2 separate regions of the Homo sapiens genome follow, and region 1 is linked to region 2. The links come from fine-mapping of genetic effects on gene expression. A gene starts in region 2. The other region holds a variant in brackets. All regions are shown on one strand. Distances are from middle to middle. Region 1 overlaps SQLE (squalene epoxidase). Region 2 holds the start of ZNF572 (zinc finger protein 572).

Region 1 (4,395 bases), 35 kb after region 2:
AGTTTTAAGCGTGAGAACCCTCATGTGACTGACACAGACTAAAGTATTGACAAAGCAAGTGAAGAAGCAAGTGGACTTAATCCTTTGGACTAAAAAGACTTGATATCCATGGAAGAAGAGTATGTTCACTGTATGAAAATGGAAAAATCGGCCAGGTGCGGTGGCTCATGCCTGTAATCCCAGCACTTTGGGAGGCTGAGGTGGGCAGATCACGAGGTCAGGAGTTCAAAACCAGCCTGGCCAATATGGTGAAACCCCGTCTCTACTAAAAATAAGAAAAAATTAGCCAGGCGTGGTAGCACGCACCTGCAGTCCCAGCTACTTGGGAGGCTAAGGCAGGAGAATTGCTTGAACCCAGGAGGTGGAGGTTGCAGTGAGCCGAGATAGCGCCACTGCACTCCAGCCTGGGCGACAGAGCGAGACTTGGTCTCAAAAAAAAAAAAAAAGAAAATGGAAAAATAGTCCCAAATATAAAGATTATAAAAATTACCTGTGATCTTTCTGACTAGAAATAATTACTCTTTCTTTTTTTTGAGACTGAGTCTCGCTCTGTCACCCGGGCTGGAGGGCAGTGTTGCAATCTCGGCTCACTGCAACCTCTGCCTCCCGAGTTCAAGCAATTCTCCTGCCTCAGCCTCCCGAGTAGCTGGGATTACAGGCACATGCCACCACGCCTGGCAAATTTTTGTATTTTTAGTAGAGACGGGGTTTCACCATGTTGGCCAGGATGGCCTTGATCTCCTGACCTTGTGATCCGCCCACCTTGGCCTCCCAAAGTTCTGGGATTACAGGTGTGAGCCACCGTGCCCTGCCAGAAATAATTACTCTTAACAGTTTGCAGGATGCATTCCAATACTTGTTTTCCCCTCTGTGTATGAATGTATGAGGGTATGTAAAGTTTCTCTGCCTATATTTTATTTTTTAACAAATTAATTTATTTTTAACAAATTAAGATGAAAATCCAATGTTACTTTTTAAAATATTTTTAAAATATTTAATGATTACTAATGATTACTAATGTAATCATTAGTAATATGTATTAAATGTTGATAAATTAGAAAATAAAAAACACACATTGGACACGTGTTTGCACACACATGCATGTCCAGTTTATATGGATAAACTGGAGATAAGGAATTTATATTTAATTTAAATTGCTGAAATGTGCTGCTTTAGAAATGTATTTTTTTTTATTCTTTAGTGCAAAGTTTATTGAAGGTGTTGTGTTACAGTTATTAGAGGAAGATGATGTTGTGATGGGAGTTCAGTACAAGGATAAAGAGACTGGAGATATCAAGGTGAGAAATACCAAATGTCACCTCTTCCTAAGAGATGTTGTTTTTCCTGCTTTTTCACTTACCCCTTTAAAAAAGTAGGCTTACCGGTTTACATGTTGAGTATCTCTTATCTGAAATGCTAGGGATCAGAAGTGTTTCAGATTTTTTATTTTTTTCAGATGTTTGCATTATACTTACCAGTTGAGCATCTCTAATCTGAAAATCTGAAATTTGAAATGATCTAATGAGTATTTTGTTTGTCACATTACTGCTCAAAAAGTTTTGGATTTCAGATTTTTGGATTAGAGATACTCAGCCTGTGTTATTTATCAAATGAACTGAGTTCTTTCTAAGCCATATGCAACAGGATGGGTTTCAGATTGCAACACATTGTTCTTTAGAGGACTTCAGAATGCTATGCAAAAAACATTTTAAACAGAACTAATGTGAATAGTTTTTGAAACAGTAATATACATCAGCAGAGAAGCAGAGGGGAACTAGCAGGGGAAAGAAGGCAAGATTCAACATAAAAGAAATGATTCAGATAAAATGAGCAATTTAACTCAGGTAATAGTAAGAGAATCTTTTTAAAAACAATTTATCCTTTTATTTTATTTTATTTTATTTTGTTTTA[T/C]TTTTTGAGACGGAGTTTCACTCTTGTTGCCCAGGCTGGAGTGCAATGGTGCGATCTCGGCTCACTGCAACCTCCACCTCCCAGGTTCAAGCGATTCTCCTGCCTCAGCCTCCTGAGTAGCTGGGATTACAGGCATGCTTCACCGCATCCGGCTAATTTTGTATTTTTAATAGAGACGGGGTTTCTCCATGTTGGTCAGGCTGCTCTTGAACTTCCAGCCTCAGGTGATCTGCCCACCTCAGCCTCCCAAAGTGCTGGGATTACAGGCGTGAGCCACCGCACCCGGCCAATTTTTCCTTTTTTTAAAAAAAAATTATCGTAGTAAAAAACATGTAATTCTGGACTGCTCCCCATAGGGTTACCACCTCTTAGAAATTGTCCTCTAATGAAGGTGACTGGAATGTTTTCTCTGCTCATACTGTAGTATTATAAATACATGTAGTCATTTGTACAAAAATTCTTCTAAGCCCTAGCTGCTGACTAAAAGCACTATATGAAGTTAGGAAATTTTAGAATGAAAGAATCTGGCTAGTCCCTTGAATTTGTAATGAGATTGACTGCTCTGTGTTACATGCCTGCCTTGTAGTTGTTTCCCCCATTGTCTGTCAAAGTGGAGAGTAATCCCAGATGGTTTGCATGGGAGGGCTACAAAGGGAGATGATCCTCAGGGACTCAGAGGAAGTATCTAAACACTGGTCATGCGTTATCTGAAGCCCACGTAACAGTTTCTTCAATAGTATTATCTTCAACTACTCTCTATAATGCTATCTGATAATATATCTAAATCTCTTCACGCACATTTTTTAAGAATGGCTTTTTTTACTGTGTGTTTCTGACTACTAAACTGAGTAGTCTTCATTTCTGTTATAGGAACTCCATGCTCCACTGACTGTTGTTGCAGATGGGCTTTTCTCCAAGTTCAGGAAAAGCCTGGTCTCCAATAAAGTTTCTGTATCATCTCATTTTGTTGGCTTTCTTATGAAGGTACTGTAGGAGTGTGTTATTGTAATTTCAATAAAAGAAACTTGAAATTTGAAAATTATTAAAACATTTTCTTTTTATTTGTTTTAGAATGCACCACAGTTTAAAGCAAATCATGCTGAACTTATTTTAGCTAACCCGAGTCCAGTTCTCATCTACCAGATTTCATCCAGTGAAACTCGAGTACTTGTTGACATTAGAGGAGAAATGCCAAGGAATTTAAGAGAATACATGGTTGAAAAAATTTACCCACAAATACCTGGTAAGAAATAGCATCTTCAGTTCTTACAAAGGCTGTGTCTAAAATAGGCCAGAGATAAGGATGGCAGGTGAAACATTCATCCAGTCAACCAGATATTCTGGAACTGAACTATTTAAACTAGCACTTAAAAACAGCAAAACAAACTCCCAAATTAATAAAAAAAAGTTTCGGGCCGGGCACAGTAGGTCATGCCTGTAATCCCACCACTTTGGGAGGCTGAGGTGGGCAGATCACCTGAGGTTGGGAGTTCAAGACCAGCCTGACCAACATGGAGAAACCCCGTCTCTACTAAAAATACAAAATTAGCCGAGTGTGGTGGTGCATGCCTGTAATCCCAGCTACTCAGGAGGCTGAGGCAGAAGAATCGCTTGAACGGGAGGCAGAGGTTGTAGTGAGCCGAGATCGTGCCATTGCACTCCAGCCTGGGCAACAAGAGCGAAACTCCGTCTCAAAAAAAAAAAAAAGTTTTGATATGTTTTTGTCACATAATAGCATAGTTTTTAGAATAATTGTTTTTATTGGCATATATGGTATTTTTAAAGGTAGTCTCTGGACACGAATCTGACTCTGAATTCTTTATCTCTTATACCTAAATATTTTTGTGCTTGGTTTTTGTAGTAATGACAGCTACCATTTCTTGAATGCTTACTATAAAGTGTTTAGCAAACATAATTTCATTTAATCTATGTAACCACTCTGTGAGGTAGGCATTATCATTATTCTCATTTTACAGATGGGAGAACTAAGGTTCAGAGAGATTAGTTAGCTCCTCCAAGTATAAACTATTAGTAATGGCAGAACCAGGGTTGATATCAGGTCTGTCTGGCTCATATGTGCCTGTTTGAACAGACATGTCCTGTCCGCAGAATGTGAGAATTGTAAGGGATCTTCAGGATCATGTTAGTTTTGAGTTGAATATAAAGGCTTCATGAGATTTAGATAGCTTTGTAAAAACATTAATAAAAATTACTTTTTCACAAATCTAAAGTTTTCATGGTACAGTTTTTAGGATCTTTTTTTGAGAATGGGATGATATAGGAAAGAAAAGTAAAAAAAATTTAAGAATTTTGATAAAATTGAAGGGAAACCCTCATTGTCAATTATGATATGATTAGAGTAATAGGAAACTATTTTTGGTATGAGTACATTTTGTTTAAATATTCCGTTTTTTTCAAGTTATTTTTTAAACTAAGTGAAACCACTTTAGTAACAAATTATTAACAGAAATGAAGTGAAATGAA
Region 2 (4,395 bases):
AGGGAAGTGAAAAGAAGGGCTTCTGGGTTTCCATATAACTGGATGGATGGTTGAAAGAATATTGGAAGAGAAACAGGTTTATTTTGTTTTATTTTGTGTTTATATGTGTATATGGAGAAGAACAGTGAGAGAGAAGACAGATTATGATTTTGATTTTTGACATTTTGGTTTTGAGGTGTTATTGAGACTTCCTGTATGAGATGCCAAATAGACCATTGGTTATGAGTGAAGAGCTCAGACATGTAGCTTGGGCTGGAGAAGTAAATTTTTGAGTTGTCTGCCTAGGTGGTATTTGAAAATGTGGGAGTGGATGAGATTGCCTAGGCAGAGAACATTCAGTGATAAGAGGAGAGGATGATCTTGAGGGACTGACTTGGAAAAGAGACTAACAGGACTGACTAGAGATGTTGGAAGAAAAGGAGGAGAATGTGATGTCACCTCAAAAGAGTGTTTCTAGAAGACGAGTCCGTAGCCATATCAAACCTCCTGAAAAAGGACCCGAGAACTAAAAATACCAGTTGCACTAACTAACATCATGGAGGTCATTGGTGATGCTAGTGATTTTTTTGTTGTTGTTGTTGCAGGAGAAATGTTAAGGTTAGTGGAAAATTGATGAAATGGAAACATTGTGAGTAAAAAGAGAAAAGAAAAGCTGAGGGACTATTTGGGGATGGGGGTGGAGGGATGGAGAGTTTAGTTGGTAGTGCGAAGTTTCCAAGAAGATAGGTAGGAAAGTGAGTACCAGTAAAGGGCTTATTAAAATACCAAAGAGCCCAGCACTTTGGGAGGCTGAGGCGGGCAGATCATGAGGTCAAGAGATCAAGACCATCCTGGCCAACATGGTGAAACCCAGTCTCTACTAAAAATGCAAAAATTAGCTGGGCATGGTGGCGCACACCTGTAGTCCTAGCTACTTGGGAGGCTGAGGCAGGAGAATTGCTTGAACCCGGGAGGCAGAGGTTGCAGTGAGCCGAAATCCTGCCATTGCACTCCAGACTGGTGACACAGTGAAACTCCATCACAAAAAAAAAAAAAAAAAAAAAAAAGGTCACAGAGGGACTCTGTATTGTAACAGGAGGGAAGAAAGAAAACGGCAGGGTGCAGACTTGAGTAGATTTCTGTTTGGTAGAGGTGAGATGAAGGGATTGGCTTCTATTTTCTCTGTAATGAAAGAGGAGGGATTAACTACTTTTCTAGGTGTTAATAAGGGTGCCTTGTAAACGAATTGTTTTATATGTGAATGGATGCCTTAGCTTTCTAACTTTCACAGGTAAGTAAATATATATCCATGTTCATAGCGGTGGGAACAGAAACAATAGGTGTTTAAAAATACTAGATTGAGGCCGGGCGCGGTGGCTCACGCCTGTAATCCCAGCACTTTGGGAGGCCGAGGTGGGCGGATCACGAGGTCAGGAGATCGAGACCATCCTGGCTAACCCGGTGAAACCCCGTCTCTACGAAAAATATAAAAATTAGCCGGGCATGGTGGCAGGCACCTGTAGTCCCAGCTACTCGAGAGGCTGAGACAGGAGGATGGCGTGAACCCAGGAGGCGGAGCTTGCAGTGAGCCGAGATCGCGCCACTGCACTCCAGCCTAGGCAACAGCGAGACTCCGTCTCAAAAAAGAAAAATACTAGATTGATTTTGATTCTAATAGTGATGATAATTAATCTGATGATATTCTGATGGCAAGGAAAAGTATAAGCTCCAATCAGGCCCCTGTCGTAAGCCGCCTGACAAGTGAGAGAAATGAGGTTCACAGTTGGCTGGTCACAGCACAGGGAAAGGAAATCCACCCCCACGCTCCTTCTGGTCCAGGACCCTAAGGGTTAAGATCAACGAGAGTGGGCCATCACTGTTTCCTAGAACGGCCCCAGCAAAGCCGCCGGGGGAGATGAGGGTAACTTCCTGTTTCTGCCTTCCGGGTTTGAGAGTTTAGGACCCTGGGTTGGTGGGGTCAGAGGGAGAGGGGGTACCTTCCTCCCGGACCGCTGGGGGTGCAGGGCGCCTTGGGTGTAGCACCCAGAACAGTGAGTTCCTTCTTGGGGGGAAGGGAGCCGAGGGTTGCGGGCTAGAGGAGTGGAAACAGCCCCGTCCAGGCTGCAGTGGACGTCCGGGAGAGAGTTCCCGCTGCTGCCAGGGGCGAAGGCCCAGCATCTCCCGCCGACGGGCCACCGTCATCCTTGTCCGCGGGGTCCCTTACGGGATCTTGTCGGCCGGAGACCGTCTGGTATCCTGGAACTTCACCCCCCAGCGTCTCCAACTTGTACCAGCCAGCGGTTCTTAAAACTAGGCTTCAGGCAGTGCATTTTCTTTGAAGGCTTTCTGATCAAAGCACGGCCCCACTCTGATCACATTGTTGCTCTAGAACAGTGAAAACACTCCTTCCCCGTGGAGAGACATCTTAATGGCAGCCTTGTATGGTCTTGCATTTGCCACCATTTTGCTGAGCCACTGTTCCGGGGGCTCCTTTGCTGCCAAATTTAATAGTATTTTAGTAGGGAAAATGGGGGAGATGGTAATGTGTTGCCCAGACTCTTGCTGCTTTTGTAAATACTTTGATAACAATATGTAACTTAGGACAGCAAAATATATAACTCCATTCGAACAACTCCACCCCCTTCCTTTTTTTGCATTCAGGTGTATGGTTTTTTCTCCCCCCCAACTCAAACACTGGGGATATTAGTAATGTAGACTAGTTTCACGTTTCTCTAGAACAAATCCCCACTTGCTGAGTGTGCTTAGGGAATGTCGACTCACTTTGTTAACAAGGTTTAGGAATGTAGACCTCTGTTTTAAAATGCCAGTATTCTAAATATTCTAAAATAAAGGGACTCTGAGGATTCTTTGCAGTTTGGGATTATGCCCAGCTCTGCTTCCTGTTCTAGTTTACGATAATAGATCAGAGGGTGAAAAAGGTCAGCATCCAAACAGACTTGGAGCTCAGTCCTGCTCTACCACTTTCTAGGTGACCTTAGGAAAGTTTCTTAATACCTTTCAAACTCATCCTATAAAATGCTGGTAGTTGTTCATACACTTCAGAGGGCTACTGTAAGAATTAAATGACAAATGTGTGCAAATTATTTCATTCACTACCTGGCACATAATAGGCAGTAATGGTGAAGATACAATATAAGTACATATACTATTTTTTGTTTTTAAAATGTGTGCATTTGTATATCCTTTTACGTCCTTATTTTTCTCCCAAATAATGATACTCTTTATATTCTGAAATGGATGCCAAAAGTCCATATGTCACTGCCTTCCTGTGATAGATCACATTTTCTTCTTTTTCTTTTTCTTTTTTCTTTTTTTTTGTTGAGACAGAGTCTTGCTCTGTCACCCAGGCTGGAGTGGTGCAATGGCACGATCTCGGCTCACTGCAACCTCTGCCTCCTGGGTTCAAGCGATTCTCCTGCCTCAGCCCCCTGAGTAGCTGGGACCACAGGCGCCCGCCACCACACCCGGCTAATTTTTTGTATTTTTAGTAGAGATGGGGTTTCACCGCATTAGCCAGGATGGAACATTTTCTAGTCCCTTAAAATAGGTTAGTGATTGTTGGCTCCAGAAGACGAAGTTTAGGCTGAAATGGATATTGTGAATATGATAGACTTAGGAACTAAGTGCAAGGAGGAAGAGGTCCCTCTTTAGCCTCCTTTTTATATTGCAGGGTTATTGGCTATAATTATTCCACCTCGGCTTTGTCCTAATTTCTCTTTACTGGTTATATAAATCCTAACTTTCCTTTGAAATTGACTTCAAAGGTTTCCTTCTGTCAAGACCAAGTTATTCTTTTGAAACTAAACAGGGTGCTTTTTTTCTTTAGCTGCTGCTTATGCCTTCATATTGATTCCTTGAAGTCTTTATAAGTTTTATTATTGGTGTCTTAAAAAAAATACTTTGCTTTTTAAAGTAAAAGTGTTTCTAAGCTACGTGTGGACAATGAGGATTAGTATTCTGTCTTTGAAGCTTGATCCTCAGACCTTTAATGTGAAGATTTACTTTTTTGCATTGTTATTTCAGGGTTAACCCTTAATTCTAAACACTTAGATCTGAGATAAGATTTTCTAAAAGGGCTGCTAAAAGTTGTGTTTCTTATTTTCGGTATGGTTCATGGAACATTCTATGCCTCCTATTGTTGTGTTGGAATGGTTGGGAAGGAAGGAGGAAGAATAAGCTTTAACAAATACCTCCAAACATAATTTATTTCCTTCCACAGGGTTTCTGATCTCTAACTTGGCTGTGATCATTGTGATGGAGCAAGAAAAAAAACTGTTGGTCTCAGATTCTAACAGCTTTATGGAGAGGGAGAGTTTGAAAAGCCCTTTCACAGGTGAGGGATCAAGACGATGATCTGAATCCTTAGGAAATTTGATGTAGAAAGAACAGGACACT

Evidence for each region. PIP is the estimated chance that this variant, and not a neighbour inherited with it, causes the effect. A credible set is the group of variants that fine-mapping cannot tell apart.
Region 1: its variant is the best candidate, but not a certain one, in a credible set for the expression of ZNF572 in whole blood (INTERVAL, PIP 0.86).

What each region holds. Positions count from the first base shown.
Region 1 is chr8:125,006,190-125,010,584 of GRCh38, forward strand. It overlaps SQLE (squalene epoxidase), which reads left to right. Exons shown (of 11, transcript NM_003129.4): 4 at 1,202-1,298; 5 at 2,782-2,895; 6 at 2,983-3,154. Among named protein-coding and RNA genes, the nearest start is that of SQLE, 9.9 kb to the left of the region's middle. The variant T/C (reference allele first, on the strand shown) is at 1,912.
Region 2 is chr8:124,971,387-124,975,781 of GRCh38, forward strand. ZNF572 (zinc finger protein 572) reads left to right here and starts at 1,909. Exons shown (of 3, transcript NM_152412.3): 1 at 1,909-2,030; 2 at 4,220-4,333. The coding sequence starts at 4,255. RefSeq lists an enhancer at 1,852-2,011.